Regions from separate parts of the Homo sapiens genome. Here region 2 is linked to region 1. A link means that fine-mapping ties the variant in region 1 to the expression of a gene that starts in the linked region. Tissue or cell type: whole blood. Region 1 holds a variant in brackets; the other region holds the start of a gene. All regions are shown on one strand. Distances are between the middles of the regions.

Region 1 (8,105 bases):
TTTTACTTTTGAAGGATAATTTTGCAGGGTACAGAATTCTGTTTTGATGATTTTTTTTTCTCTAAACACCTTAACTGTTTCACTCCATTTTCTTGCTTGTGTGGTTTCTGTAGGTAAGGTATTTTTTTTCATCTCTGGCTTATCTTTGATTTTTTGTGTTTTAAAAATGATATGCCTACGTGCAGGTTTTTTGGCATTTATCTTCTTGGTATTCTCGGATTTTCCTCCATCTGTGATTTGGTGTCTGACATTACTTCAGCGAAATTTTCAGTAATTATTGTTTCATATATAGATGCTCCTTGACTTGATGATGTGGTTACATCCTGATAAACTCATCATAAATTGAAAATCTCTTTGTCAGAAGTGCATTTTCGACTTACAATATGTTCAACTTATAATAGGTTTATCCAGATGGAGCCTCATCATAAGTTGGGGAACGTACTGAAGTGTATTGCTTCTGCGCCATTGTAAAATTGAAAAATACTAAGTCAAACCACTGTGCGTCAGGCACCGACTGTCTTTCTTCTGTTCTTTTCCTTTCCTTCGGGTATTTCCATTGTGCATATCTACACCTTTTGTGGCTGTCCATCTTGGATATTCTGTTCTTTTTTTTTTTCCCCAGTGTTCTCTTTGCTTGAAGGTTTCTGTTGATACATCCTTAAGTTCAAAGATTTTTTTCCTCAATCTCGTGCAGTCTACATAATACATAAGCCCATCAAAGGCATTCTTCACTTCTGTACAGTGTTTTTGATCACTAGTATTTCTTTTTTTTTTTTTTTGAGATGGAGTCTCACTTTCTTGCCCAGGCTGGAGTGCAGTGGTGCGATCTGGGCTCACTGCAGCCTCTACCTCTCAGGTTCAAGCCATTCTTGTGCCTCAGCCTCCTGAGTAGCTGGGACTACAGGTGCGCACCACCGTGCCTAGCTAATTTTTGTATTTTTAGTAGAGACAGAGTTTCAGTATGTTGGTTAGGCTGGTTTCGAACTTCTGACCTCAAGTGATCTACCCACCTCAGCCTCTCAAAGTGCTGGGATTACAGGTGTGAGCCACTACGCCTGGCCTGCCCATCTGTTCTTACATGCTGCCTACTTTATTCACTAGAGCCCATAACATATTATTCATGGTTGTTTTAAGTTTTGTCTGATACCTTCAACATCCCTATCATGTCTGGTTCTGATGCTTGCCCTGTCTGTGTTTTTGTTTTTGTTTTTATTTTTTTTTTTGAGATGGAGTCCAGGCTGGAGTGCAGTGGTGTGATCTTGGCTCACTACAACCTCCGCCTGTTGGGTTCAAGTGATTCTTCTGCCTCAGCCTCCCGAGTAGCTGGGACTACAGGTGCACTCCACCATGCCCGGCTGATTTTTGTATTTTTAGTAGAGACGGGGTTTCACCATACTGGCCAGGCTGATCTCGAATTCCTGACCTCAGGTGATCTACCCCCCTCGGCCTCCCAGAGTGCTGGGATTACAGGCGTGAGCCACGGCGCGTGGTTGCCCTATGTTTTTTTGCCTTTTAGTATTGCCTTGTCCCTTTACATTCATAGCTAGACATGATGTACTGAGTAAAAGGAATTACTTTTAATAGTACTTTACTAATGTGGTGATGAGATGTCAGGAAAGGGTGAGCATTCTGTAGGCCCCTGATTAGGTCTGTCTCTTTGTGAGCCTGTTCTCCTGGACTCTCAACCTCACAAGTATTTCCCAGGCCACCCCCACCCCATCTCTTAGATGGGACAGGGTGGAATTTGGTATATCTCTCTTCCCTCAGGTTAGTTAAGCTCTGACAAAACCCCAATATATTAGGCTCTGGGAACCTGGTTGAGCTCCTGAAAGTAAAACTCAGAAAAGCTTGGGACTTTGTCTCCCTCCACTCCCACCATGACTGGGTCCCCCTGGACTTTTTAACTTCAAACATGTACACACCTAGCCTCTAGCAATTTGTCAGTTGCAGTTCAGGTATTTCTGTCCTGACGCTTTCTCACAGAGATTTGTGATCTGGTAACTACTGTGTTTCTGCCTGTCTCTAATTTTGGGGACAGTGGTTTGTTTGCCTTGTATCTTCACTTCTCTTTCAGATCTAAGAAGAGTTGTTGATTTTTCAGTTTGTTAAACTTTTTACTTGTTAGGACAGAGTGGCTACTTCCAAACTCTTTACATGCAGAACTGGAACTATTAATTTTTGATGATACAGTTGATTCTCTTAGAACACAATTCAGTCTCTTATAACCACCCACCCATCCCAATCCCCTCTCTCTCCTCGGAGGTAATCAGTTTGATAGATATTCTTCTAGGTCTTTCCCTGTACATTTTTAATGCATATGTTTATATCCTTAAAATGTTTGTGTTGGCTTATTTTTGTGAAGTTGTATGATATTCTGTTGTATGAACATTTCATAATTTGTCTGTTGTAATAATCTGTTATCAACATCAGTGTTTAGGTTGTTTTCAGTTACTGGTTATTTTAGATAACACGACTTTGAACCTTTTTGTACATTTGTTTTGGTAGACATCAACTATCATTTCTGTTAGGCACATACCAGGATTTTTCAACCTCAGCACTATTGACATTTTGGATGGAATAATTCTTTGTTGTGGAGGAACGTCCTGTGCATCGTGGGTTGCTGAGCAGCATTCCTGGCCCCGACTTATGTAGGTGCCAGTAGCACTGCCCCACTATGACAACCATAAAGGGCTCCAGACATTGTCAAATGCCCCCGGGGGGGCAAAATCTCCCTCCTGCCCATTGAGAACCACTGGGCACATACTTACGAATGATACTGTTGAGTCATTGTATACGTATATTTAAATTTAGTACATACTCTTAGTTTTCCAAAGTGGCGAAATGACTTCACATTCCCAGTACCAGGAATTGAGAACTGCATTTGCTCTATATCCCTTTTTATTTTCATGGAAAAGAGGTTTTCCACTTTTCAAAAAATTGCACCACCATAGTTGATGTGGGTGTGTTGTGTAGGCGTTAGCAGTATTGCCCTCACCATGCGCTCACTGGACAGTAACACAACCCCACGAGAAGGATGGTTTGCTCCACATCCTTAACAGACTTGTATTGGCCATTGTCCCGTTGATGCTCATTTCAGGGATCAGTTGTTTGTTTCTAAATGTCTCCTTGTTTTTTTTTTTTTTTAATTCCAGTTCTCCTTTTATTCACTGTATACAACTTCTCTGTATTTTAAATATTTACATAGTTATATATTATGATAGTTATTTGTAATATTACTTGTTTGCTAACATCATCTGGATCATCTGTGCATCTTTATCAATTATCTGCCTATTCCTTTTGTCAGTCATATTTTCCTGCCTCATGTCTCAAAGTTTTTAATTTTTTGCTGACATTGTTTTAAAAGGAATAACCACAGAGACTGAAGTTTACTGTTGTGGTTTTTTTTGAGACAGAGTCTTGCTCTGTCGCCCAGGCTGGAGTGCAGTGGCGCGATCTTGGCTCACTGCAACCTCCGCCTCCTGGGTTCAAGCAATTCTTCTGCCTCAGCCTACCCAGTAGCTGGGATTACAGTTGCCCACCACCATGCCTGGATAATTTTTGTATATTTAGTAGAGACGGGATTTCACCATGTTGGTCAGGCTGGTCTCAAACTCCTGGCCTCAGGTGATCCACCCACCTTGGCCTCCCAAAGTGCTGGGATTACAGGGGTGAGCCACCATACCTGACCTTACTGTTGTTTTATATCAGAGGATATTTCCCCTTTTCTCTGTCATGCAGTAGGGGAATGGCTGATCACCTCAATCAAAACAGGAATTGAGCTGTTTAGGGGCTGTACTCTGTTACCTGTGTCTTCGGGTTTCTGGATGGTATATTTATTGCAGGCTCCTCTCTACTGGTACTTTGTTTCTGGAGCACCTTGAGGCTGCGGGAGACTCAGTCTGCCATTCCAGCCCAGCCTGCAGCTTCTTGCACTGACCAGCACTCAACAGATGTCCCATGGGGAAAACTCACTGTCCACTGGGGCACATCAAAACCTTCACTGGTTTCTCTTTCCCCTAGAATAGTCCTCTGTCTGGGCCGAGCCCTTCCTTCACTGTTCTCAAGCTGAGCAAATGGCCCAGCGAGGTAACAGCCAGCAATTTTAGCTCACCCAAGAGGAGCTCTTTTCTCTCGCAATTTTAGTTTGTTTAGTCCTCCTTCCTTCCACAGGTCTCTGGTGTTTTAAAAAAGATAAGAGTATTTAGAATTTTCTAGTTGTAGCAGTAGTAGTCCAAGCATATGATTTTATTTTACATTATTGAGAGTTAGAATTATTAGGTGAAATAAAATGAAAAACTTTCTTGGTATTTTCATTGAGAATTTATCAAATGTGCAAATTAATTTGTGGAAAATTAATATCTTTGCCATGTAAGTCTACTCATCATAAACATGGCATGTTGCTTCAATCTCTTTGTACTTACATATTTTATCATGTGTATTTTTTGTTAGGTTTTCCTGCGTTTTAAAGCTTTTTATTCCTAAGTACTTTCTAGATTTGTTACTGTGATCATATAGGCATTTTCTTACTATATTTTCTGGTTGGTGACTGCTAATGTGCCAAAAAGCTATTCCTTATTGTTTTGTTTAAAACTGCTACCCTGTTGACTTTTCTTACTGGTTCTCATGGT[TTTTTG/T]TTTTGTTTTGTTTTGTTTTGTTTTCTTAGAAAGAAACATTTAATAGGGACTTAAGAACAGAAGCCATGTCTGTGTCTCATGCAGTGGCAAGACAAGGTGGTGGATCCCTGCACCATTACCCCCAGACCCAGTGCTTCTAGACCGTAGGGAGGGGTGGTTCAGAAGGGATGTGTAAGACAGTTGAAGTACAGTTACATCAAGGTTGTTTGACCTAAGGGTAGGATTTATGGTAAGTACCTGGTCTGACACAAGGAACAATAGATGAACTGGAAATCTTAGAGGCCTTCCCAGAACAGGGGCTAATCAGAAGCCCACACGGTAGATGAACTTCCAAGATGGAGTCCAGAACAGGGGTTAATCAGAAGCTCACATGGTAGATTAGTTTCCAAGATGGAGTCCAGAACAGGGGTTAATCAGAAGCCCACATGGTCGATGAGCTTCCAAGATGGAGTCCAGAACAGGGGTTAATCAGAAACCCACATGGTAGATTAGCTTCCAAGATGGAGTCCAGAACAGGGGTTAATCAGAAGCCCACATGGTCGATGAGCTTCCAAGATAGAGTCCAGAACAGGGGTTAATCAGAAGCCCACATGGTCGATGAGCTTCCAAGATGGAGTTGCTTTGGCCTTCACACTTCACCTCCCAGTCCAGCTTTTCTATCTTATGCGCCCTCCCCTGAACGTTAGGTAGGGTGCCTGATATTGCAGAGCTTTAGCAGCAGTGCAGTGGAAAACAGATTAGGCCAAGGAGGGTTCCAAATTAAGGAGGTTCACAGGGTTGTTGAATCATTTCTAGTCTTCAGAATACTATGACTTTGCTTGTCTCAGATGAAGTAAAACAATGAGAGATACATAACAATAATTTGAATAATAGAAATAGAATGCACACAAGGATTACAAACGAAAGAGAACTTTTGATTGTGCCAGAACAACACCAGCAAATAACCTGTTCCGTTAATGGGCCGACTAAAAGTATCATGAAGAAAACGAAAACCTGGTTCCTTTTTAGGGACTTCTTGTAGCCAGGAAATAATTCAGTTAGCCCAAATTATAGGCAAATAATAAAAACTCAGAACAGCAATCAGAATCTAAAATTTTCTCTCTCTGGTGTCCCTACTTCTACCAAGAATAAATCGTAGCAGGACCAACTTATTTGCAAATAAATTTTGATCTCATTATACTTGGCCTGGTTATTTGCATAAAGAATAGCAAGAATAGTGACCAGCCATGTAGGCTTCTTTTAAGTTGACTTTGCTGGAGCTTTTTTTTTTTTTTCTTTTTTCTTTTTGAGACGGAGTCTTGCTCTGTCGCCCAGGCTGGAGTGCAGTGGTGTGATCTTGGCTCACTGCAACCTTCGCCTCCCGGGTTCAAGCGATTATCCTGCCTCAGCCTCCTGAGTAGCTGGGATTACAGGTGTGTTCCAGCACGCCTGGCTAATTTTTGTATTTTTAGTAGACATAGGGTTTCACCATGTTGGTCAGGCTGGTCTCAAACTTCTGACCTCATGATCTGCCCTCCTCAGCCTCCCAAAGTGCTGGGATTACAGGCATAAGCCACTGCTCTCGGCCTTGCTGGAACTTTTTAAAGGAATTTTGGATTCGACTTTTTAAAAGCTTAGAAGGCCAGAAGCCAAGCCAAGGATTTGCTGCTCGACTGTGCTTGTAACACCTGTATGAATTCCTGTCTTCTCGAGATCCCAAAATACCATGAGGTTCCTGAGCCTGTTAAAAAGTGACATTCTTTACTTGCCACAGATCAGGAATCTTTAAGGTGGACAAGGTACCAGGCGAGTCTTTCCAAGGGGCTTTTTATCAGCTCTATAAATCCAACCTAAATTTCTCAAAGCAGCCTGGTTATATCTGAAAATATGCCATTCCATTTGAGGCCTTGATAAAATAACCAGTCTCTCAATTGTGTCCTTTTTACAAAAGAAAACAGATTCTTGCTGAACTTATGCAAATAACTCTATTGCCATAAAATCAGAATACTCATGAATAGTTTCCAAATTTTGGAGAAATCAGGTAGAGAGAAAGGTAAATTTTGCTCACAAAACATACTTTACCCAATTGCCCTAAGCTATAAATAACTCAGAAAGATTCTTGACTCTTCTTTAATCAGAGCAGCAGTCTTCCAAACAGGATGTCATTTGTTCACCTTGGAACTGCCATCCACAAATCAAGCAGCTCTTTGTCAGTCAGGTGAGAGCTGTTTATCAGGGACTGTCGAATCCAACAGCTGTTTACACAGTTCCAGAGTCAGTGGAACAGAAGCCATGTCTGTGTCTCAGGCAGCTGCAAGACAAGATGGTGGATCTCCACCAGTTCTCATTTTATCTCAGCCGATTCTCTTAGTTTTTTTGTTTGTTTGTTTGTTTGAGATGGAGTTTTGCTCTTTGTTGCCCAGGCTTGAGTGCAGTGGCACGATCTCAGCTCACTGCCAACCTCCGCCTCCCGGGTTCAAGTGATTCTCCTGCCTCAGCCTCCTGAGTAGCTGGGATACAGGCGCCCACCACCACACCTGGCTGATTTTTTTGTGTTTTTAGTAGAGGTGGGGTTTCACTGTGTTAGTCAGGATGGTCTCGATCTCTTGACCTCATTATTTGCCTGCCTCAGCCTCCCAGAGTGCTGGGATTACAGGCGTGAGCCACCGCACCCAGCCGCCATGTGTTTTTAAAGAAAATGATTTTAGTGGTTTACACAAAGTATAATATTTTCTATAGGTTTAAGGAAGAAACACTTTATTGTGTCAAGGAAATTCCTTGTACTTTGCTTTAACTTCTAAGTTTTGAAAGTGTTGAAAAAAAAATTTTTTTTTGAGGGGGAGTCTCGCCCTTGTTGCCCAGGCTGGAGTGCAATTTTGTGATCTCAGCTCACTACAACCTCCACCTCCTGGGTTCAAGTGATTCTCCTGCCTCAGCCTCCCGTCACCATGCCCGGTTAATTTTTTTGTATTTAGTAGAGACAGGGTTTCACCATGTTGGTCAGGCTGGTCTCAAACTCCTGACCTCAAATGATCTGCCCACCTCAGCCTCTGAAAGTGCTGGGATTACAGGTGTGAGCCACTGCACCTGGCCTCCTAGGTTCTCTTTTTGTGTGTCACCAGTATTATGCCTTTACCTCATTTTTCTCATAAATCCTATGGCTTTTTATGCAACTTTGCATGGTGTGATTTTTTGCAGCATATATGTCCCATTACAGTAGAACTGTTTATCATAATCTCTTGTGAAATTTTAAATCTCTTAAGAGTTTTGGACTGCTTCTTGGTCATAAAATTTTCTTTTTAAATTTTCTTTTGATCATGCTAGGTCAATTCAAAATTTTAACAGTTATTTTGTATTTTACTTTTATTCTTTTATTTATTTATTTATTTATTTTGAGTTAGAGTCTTGCTCTGTTGCCCAGGCTGGAGTGTAGTGGCACGTTCTCGCTCACTGCAGCCTTCACCTCCTGGGTTCAAGCGATTCTCCTGCCTC
Region 2 (8,105 bases), 42 kb after region 1:
ATAAAATGTTTAAGAAAAGAAAAAAATGAGATAAAATTGTATCCAAGATGACAATGGGATCTTTATATATATATATATATATATATATCATTGTGAAGTGACTGACACAATCAAGCCAGTGAATGTATCCATCACCTCACATAGTTACCCTTTAGGTATGTGTGATTAGGGTATTTCAGGCTTACTCTAAGTGAATTTCAAGCGTACAACATATTATTAACTGTCGTCACCATGCTGTCCATTAGGTCTCCAGAATTTATTCATGTTATAACTGCAAGTTTGTTCTCTTTTTAAAACATTTGACCAACATCTCCTCATTTCCCCTACTTGCCACCTGACCTCTGGTAACCACTCTTCCACTGTTTCTATGAGTTCGACTTTTTAAGATTCCACATCTACGTGAGATCGTGTAGTATCTTCTTTCTGTATCCGTGTATTTCTATGTGTATTTCACTTTGCATAATGTCCTCCAGGCTCATCCATGTTGTAGTAAATCACAGAATTTTCTCCTTTTTTGAGGCCAAGTAATATTCTATTGTGTACGTATACTACATTTTCTTTATCTTTTGATAGATGCTTAGGTTGTTTCTACATCTTCACTATTGTGAATAATGCTGCAATGAACAGGGGAGTGCAGATATCGCTGAGATATCTTTTAATTTTATTTATTTTGGATATATACTGCTATGATTTGAATGTCTATGCCCTCTGAAAATTACGTTGCAACTAACCCCCATTGTAACAGTGTTAGGAGAGTGGGAAAGCTGCCTATGGCAATTGAGAGGTGGGACCTTTGGGAGGTAACTAGGATTAGATGAGCTCATGAGGGTGGGCATTAGTGGCTTTATAGGAAGAGAAAGAGAGAAATGGGCTCGGCTGCTTGATCCCCCTTCACAGTGTGCACCCTGGACTGACCTGGGGCTCTGCAGAGAGTCCTGCTAGCAAGGAAGTCCTTACCAGAAGTGTCCCTCAACCTTGGACTTCCCAGTCTCCAGAACTGTAAGAAATAAATTCATTTTCTTTATAAATTATTCAGTGTCAGGTATTCAGTTACAGCAATAGAAAATAAACTAAGACAGAAAATTGGTACTGAGGAGTGGGGCTGTTGCTAATAATAAATCCTGAAAATGTGGAAGTGGCTTTGGAACTGGGTAATGGGCAGAGTTTGGAAGAGTCTGGAGGAGCAGGTTAGAAAAGGCCTAGATTCTGGTGAGGGATTGTCTCAAAAAAAAAAAAAAAGAAGAAGAAGAAGTTGTGAAACCATGCCCCCAAATAGTTAAAGAAACCAGTGACTAACGAATTTTTTTTTTTTGAGATGGAGTCTCGCTCTTGTCGCCCAGGCTGGAGTGCAGTGGCGCGATGTCGGCTCGCTGCAATCTCCACCTCCCAGGTTCAAGCGATTCTCCTGCCTCAGCCTCCCGAGGAGCTGGGATTACAGGTGTGCACCACCACGCCCAGCTAATTTTTGTATTTTTAGTAGAGACAGGGTTTCACCATGTTGGCCAGGCTGGTCTCGAACTCCTGACCTCAGGTGATCTGCCCGCCTCGGCCTCCCAAAGTGCTAGGATTATAGGCGTGAGCCACCGCGTCCGGCTAACAGAAATTCTTGAGCTTACAGGATGGCAGATAAGAAACAGTTTGCTGAAACTCCGTTTGTAATATAATACAACTGGCTGAAATCAGTTGAAACCAATATAACCAAACGGAGTCCATGCAGAATGAGCTTGCTGATGTCGCAGCCTGAATTTCCACTGCACTTTTCACACTAACTCTACCTTAATTTGCACATGGGACCCAAGAAGAGGCTTGAAGAGACAACTGCACATGGTCGGGGACTTTCCAGACTTCCTTTTTCCTTCACCATTCACCTGTGAATCCCAGAATCCACCCTCTAAACCTTTTTTCACAATAGTGCTGCCTTAAGGGCAGCACAGAGAGATAGATTTGAACTAAACTCCTGTCACTTTGTTGGTCAACTCGCAATTAAGCTTTTCTTTTCTCAAACGCCTGGTGCCATAGTATTGGCTTCTGTGCACATCGGGCAATGAGGTCTTTTGCGTAGCAGTATTTGGATATCCGGTTTCCTCACGCTATTTATTGAAGCGACTGTCCTTTCCCCATCGTGTATTCTTGACACAAGATTAGTTGACTTGCCTAAGATTAGTTGACTGTATATGCATGGGGTTATTTCTGGTTTTTCTACGCTGTTCCACATTGGTCCATGCGTCTGTTTTTATGCTAGTACTTCACTGGTGAGTTCTACCTCTGGGAATAAATATAAGAATTCTCTAATCACTGGATGTTTGAAGCAATTCACTAAGCAACTCATTATGATGCTTTCTGGCAAAGGATCTCTGAATTTGTCTTCAAATTGTGGATAAAATTGGGTCAAATTTGGCCCATGTTGTCCTGGAGAATCATTTGTGTCACAAATTATCAAATTTATTAGTATAGAGCGGATTTTCATTCAATTTCCTATGTGTCTATGGTTATTTCTCTTTTTTCATCTCTCTCCTCCATCTCCCCGGCCCCATCTTGCTGTCATAAGCATCGTGACTTACCTATAATTCTCCCTACGACTCCAGTTATGGATCAACTTTACTTTTTTCTGTTAATTCTTACCTTCTTTCCATAAATATATTTAAATTTTTTCTGGTTTCCTCAACTGAAGTCAAACCAATTGAGTATTGGTGGGCCGGGCGCGGTGGCTCACGCCTGTAATCCTAGCACTTTGGGAGGCCAAGGCGGGCGGATTGCCTGAGCTCAGGAGTTCGCGACCAGCCTGGGCAACACGGTGACTCCCCGTCTCTACTAAAATACAAAAAAATTAGCCGGGCGTGGCGGCGGGCGCCTGTAGTCCCAGCTACTCGGGAGGCTGAGGCAGAAGAATGGCGTCAACCCGGGAGGCGGAGTTTGCAGTGAGCCGAGATCACGCCACTGCACTCCAGCCTGGGTGACAGAGCGAGACGCCGTCTCAAGAAAATATATATATATATTGGTGGATTCGGTTTCCCTTTATGTTTCTCAGAAAACCGTGTGAGCCCGTTTGGAGTCACTCCGTCTCCAAGCGACAGGCACTTCCGGACGCGGGGCACTGTGGGAAGTTGAGTTCGCGGGGCTCCTTCCTTCGCGCATGCGCACATGCACTCTTGGTAATGCTTGCAGGTGGCCCGTTCTTCCTCTTTGTCCTTCGCTGCCACGTGAGAGGGGAGTGTACGCGTGTGCGCGCGTGCGAGTGTGCGCGTGTGCAGTCCCCGACTCGTCCCGGCCCGTTCGGAGCCGCCCGGGAGCGCACAAAGGCCGACGGTTTGGGCGCGTGCGCGGGACACGGGGGACGGGCGGTGTCACGTGATCGCGAGGCCGCGGGCGCGCGGGCGCGACTCGGCGGCGGCGTCTTTTGTGAGTTCAGTGAGTTTATTGCGGGCCCGGCGCTGGGGGCTCCGGGAATGGCGGGGGAGGCGCGCGGGAGTGGCCGCGGGGAGCTTCGGCTTCAAGGCCCTGGGCGTCCGCGCGCGGATGCGGGTCTGGGGCGGGTTGGGGCTGGGCCGGGTCGTGAAGATGCCGTGGGCCGCGGAGCTGCGCGGATTCTGGGCTGTGGGGCGGGCACGGCCTTTCCGGAGGCGCCGCTCCTGGGCGTCCTTTCAGGCGGGCGTGGAGGCGCCAGCCTCGGGCGCGTTTAGCCTCGGGCGCGTTTAGCCTCGACCTCGGGCCAGCCCGCTTGCCGCGCCGTGGCCCTAAGGAGCGGCTGCCCTGCTGGACCGCATCCACCAGCAGCCTGGCTCTGCCGCTATCGAAGGAGGCTTTTAAAGCGCTGGGGTTACAGGTGTGAGCCACCATTCCTGGCCGTGTATTTTTTAATGGTTATATTTATTGACTGTTTTAAATTTTTTAAGTGACTTTTGCTTTTGGTATGGTGTAGCGAAATCTCCCCTCAAATTATACATATATTCATTCACCTGTGGTTTTTTTTTGTAGACATTCTTAGGGTTTCCATTATTTTAAAATTTAACCCACTGAAAGTAGTTGTATGAAATAGCTACGTTTATTTTCTTTCAAATATTCTTGTATTCATTAAATAATTTAATTTTACTGATGGCTTTGAAATGCTACATTTATTGCATGCTGACTCTTGCATATTTAGACAGTTTGCTTTTTTTCATCTGTATAACTTCTCTGGAGCCAGTGTCAAATGTTATAATGATTATAATTTGTATGTATTACAGTGGGCCTGTTCACACTCATTATTTTGTATTTCCAAAAGCATCCAGGCCCGGTGTGGTAGGGCATGCCTGTAGCCCCAGCTACTCTGTAGGTTGAGGTAGGAGGATCACTTGAGCCCAGGAGTTCAGGGCTGCAGTGAGCTATGGTTATGCCATTGCACTTCAGCCTGGACAACACAGTAAGACCCTGTCAAAAAAAAAAAAAAAGTGTCCGAATTGTTCTTGAACCTTTTTTCTTACACATAAACTTTAGAATTTTGAGATTCTGATTGGAGTCGATGAGTTATATAAATCATTTGAGGTCAAATTATCTTCACAATCTGAAGTCTTCCTATCCCAGAATAAAATCGAATTATAAATTTCTTTAATTCTATTTTTATAGTTCTCATTGGTGTTTTTAGTATGCTTCATATGGGTCTTGATATTCCTACATATTTTATGTATTTTGTCAATTATGAGTCGGATTTTATTTTTTTGTTATTTTATGTGAGTTGTTTATATCTTACAGAAATAAGGTTATTGACCTGGAAAGATGTTCTTCACATAATGGGAAAAAAACAAAAACAGCTTTTAAATATGACCATATGCTTCCATTGTATGAAAAATATCACAATAGTTTCCATCATCCTAAGAATGGTTACCTGTGGTGAGATCATAGATAATAGTTCTTATTTAGCTTGTGTATGTTTTTTATATTTTGCCATCATATATTACTTTTATAATAATAATTATAGCTAGTATATGTTTCGTATGACTGTGTGCCAGCTTTTGTTCTAAGATTTATGTATTATCACAATTTAAGGTATAAAGGAGTCATTTCTTGTATAACTGGGAGAAACTGCTGTGTGTTTCTGAGTTGGCACTGAAGTTTGAACCACAAAAAGGCATGAAAAAGAAAGTGCTGCTTGTTAGTGTGATACAGTTGAGGCAGGGCGTCCTTCATTTATATTTTTGTGGGAATTAGTGACTGAATGTGTGCATGGGAATAGGAGCTGACTCCAGGATTTATGTTGTGTGTGTTTGTGCATGTAGATATGCACAAATGACAATATGACTTTAGTATTCATGCTTTGAACATAGCAGGATAGAGAATTAACATTTGAATTTTGCTACTTACTAAATGTGCAATCACAGGCACATTTTACAATCACTCATTGTCCCAGTTTTCTCTCTGTAAAATGGAGATTATGTTAAACGCCTTATAGGGTTGTGCATGAGTTAAATTTAAAATGCTTAGTATATTGTCTCACATACAGAAAGCACTGGAATGTTAGCTGTAACTGTTATTACAAGGCCCCAGTCGCTTTCCTTTTAACACCTCATTTGTTTCTTAGACTCCCATTGTGAGGTCCACTTTATCTTCACCATTTTAGCAAGTACAGAAATTGAGGCTTTGAAGGCAAGAAAGGAGGGGGGAAAAACAGTAACCACAATAAACATTAAATGTATTCAATTTGTCAGTTAAAAGACACACTGTTGGTTTGGATTTTTTTTTTTTTTTTGAGATGGAGTTTCCCTTTTGTTGCACCAGGCTGGAGTACAATGGCACGGGCTGCAACATCCACCTCCCAGGTTCAAGCAACTCTTCTGCCTCAGCCTCCCAAGTAGCTGAGCTTACAGGTGCATGCCACCACGCCTGGTTTATTTTTGTATTTTTAGTAGAGATGGGGTTTCATCATGTTGGTCAGGCTGGTTGAACTCCTGACCTCAGGTGATCCATCTGCCTTGGCCTCCCAAAGTGCTGGAATTACAGGCGTAAGCCATCGCTCCTGGCCAATTTGGATTTTTTTTTTTTTAAACACCAATAAATTTGAGCTCTGAGCTGCTTATAAGGGACAAAGATAATGATGCTAAGATTTTTAGTGTAGTTGACCAGATGATAACATACCACGTAAATACCAAAAGAATGCTGAAGCCAGGTGTGGTGTTGTATGCCTATAATCCTAGCACTCTGGGAGGCTGAGGTGGGAGAATTGCTTGAGCCCAGGAGTTTGAGACTATCCTGGGCAGCATAGCGAGATCCTGTCTCTACAAAGAAAAAAAATACAAAAACAGTTAGCTGGGCATGGAGGCACACAAACCTGTAGTTCCAGCTACGTGGGAGGCTGAGGCAGGAGGATCCCTTGAGCCTGGAGTTCAAAGTTGCAGTGAGCTCTGATTGTGCCACTGCATGCCAGCCTGGGTTAGGGAGCAAGACCGTACCAAAAAAAAAAAAAAAAAAAAAGAATGCTGATGTTGCAGACTTCATCTAAGATAAAATAGATTTTAAGGCAAAAAGCATTATTGGGGGTATGAAGCGTTGTTACACAATGATTTTTTAAAACCCCTATTTAACCTTGACGCATCAAACAACATAGCCATAAGCATATAATCCAAACATCAGCAGAATTATAAGGAAAAACTGACCAATCTCTAGTCATATTGTGAGATTTTAACCCATTTCCTTCTGAAATGGGTAGACAAAAATGGCAGACAAAAGTTAAGGATATATTAATAGAAGATTTTAATAGGAAATTAGGCTCAGAATGGTGAAATTTGTTTGTTTTTGCCAAAAGTCATCTAGCTGGTAAAGGAAAAAGTTGATTGAAACTCAAATCTGTTTTAATACAGATCATATAAACTGTGTTTTTCCTAACAGCACCTGTTAAACTGATTTGCATTTCAGCATTCACAGTGAATATTGAGTGAATCTCACAATTACTTTATTTCTGATATTTCCTTATCTGTTTGCAGAGACCTAGGCTTCCACTGTTCCATTTTACTATATTCTGTTTCCCTGAGAGTGCTGTTTCAGTTATATAGCAAGCGTACCTCTGGCCTTAGATGATCGTGAATTCCAAGTTCCTAGCAAGAGAGAAAGAGATTTCATGTGCAATGTGAATATACCAGTTGAAGTACATTTCTCCCGAAGTCCACAGATCCTGGTCCCTACAAATAAGCCTGCTCATGTGAGATAAGAAAGGAGTTCCTGGAACCAGGAATTCATTCTCAGTGTAGAAGACCTAGCTGAGACCTCACTCCACAGTTTTGGGGCAGAAGCAGAAGAGACGCACAGTAGAACCGATCTCAGCCTTGCTGATCATCTCGTACAGCAGCAGAAAATGACCATGTTACAGGTGAGTTGATTGTTGAGTTCTTATTTTTTCCCAGGGAATTAGAAGAAATGTATAAGCCTTCCGGTGAAAAAGAAAAGTTTAAATAGTTAAGAAATCAGAGGAAAATAGCCTCAGATGATCAGGATTGGAACAAAATTGGCACAGTGATATATTAACTACTGGACCATGACAGGTTCTTAGGATTGAGTATTTATAGCATATTTAAAGCCATAACATCTTACATAATTACTGCATTTGAGCTGCAAACTTTGTTTTCAAATTTTTGGTAGTCGTAATAGAGAAATGTGAGCTTTTATATGCTTTGCATCGTTTAAAGGTAAAAGCAAACTGATTGCCCATAGGAAGTAAATATTTCTTGGTTATCGGGTGTCCATTTCTTTTTCCTTGATGAAGTCTTATGAATGAGAGATATGCAGTAGTTCCTCCTTATCTGCAGTTTTGCTTTTTGCAGTTTCAATTTTCCAATTTCCCATGGTTTGAAAATATTAAATAGAAAATTTCAGAAATAAGCAATTGGTAAGTTTTAAATTGCTTCCTGTTCTGAGTAGCATGATGAACTCTTGCACCATCCCACCCAGGACCTGCCTCATCCCTTGGTCCAGCAGATCCATGCTGTATATGCTGCTTACCTGTCAGTCACTTAGTAGCCATCTGAGGTGTCAGATCAGCTCATGGTATTGCAGTGCTTGTATTTTAGTAGCCCTTATTTTACTTAATAATGGCTCCTAGACATAAAAGTAGTGATGCTAGTAATTCGGATATACCAAAG

Evidence for each region. PIP is the estimated chance that this variant, and not a neighbour inherited with it, causes the effect.
Region 2: ZNF84 starts here. The variant in region 1 is fine-mapped to the expression of ZNF84 in whole blood (INTERVAL, PIP 0.96).

The regions. Positions count from the first base shown.
Region 1 is chr12:132,992,264-133,000,368 of GRCh38, forward strand. All of the region lies in intron 1 of ZNF26 (zinc finger protein 26), which reads left to right. It also overlaps the pseudogene RNU4ATAC12P. Among named protein-coding and RNA genes, the nearest start is that of ZNF26, 9.9 kb to the left of the region's middle. The variant TTTTTG/T (reference allele first, on the strand shown) is at 4,629.
Region 2 is chr12:133,034,147-133,042,251 of GRCh38, forward strand. ZNF84 (zinc finger protein 84) reads left to right here and starts at 3,363. Exons shown (of 5, transcript NM_001289971.2): 1 at 3,363-3,399; 2 at 7,132-7,336. The coding sequence starts at 7,322. ZNF84-DT (ZNF84 divergent transcript) reads right to left here and starts at 3,076. Exons shown (of 3, transcript NR_110091.1): 1 at 2,623-3,076. It also overlaps the pseudogene PTP4A1P2. RefSeq lists an enhancer at 2,980-3,069 and a silencer at 3,290-3,469.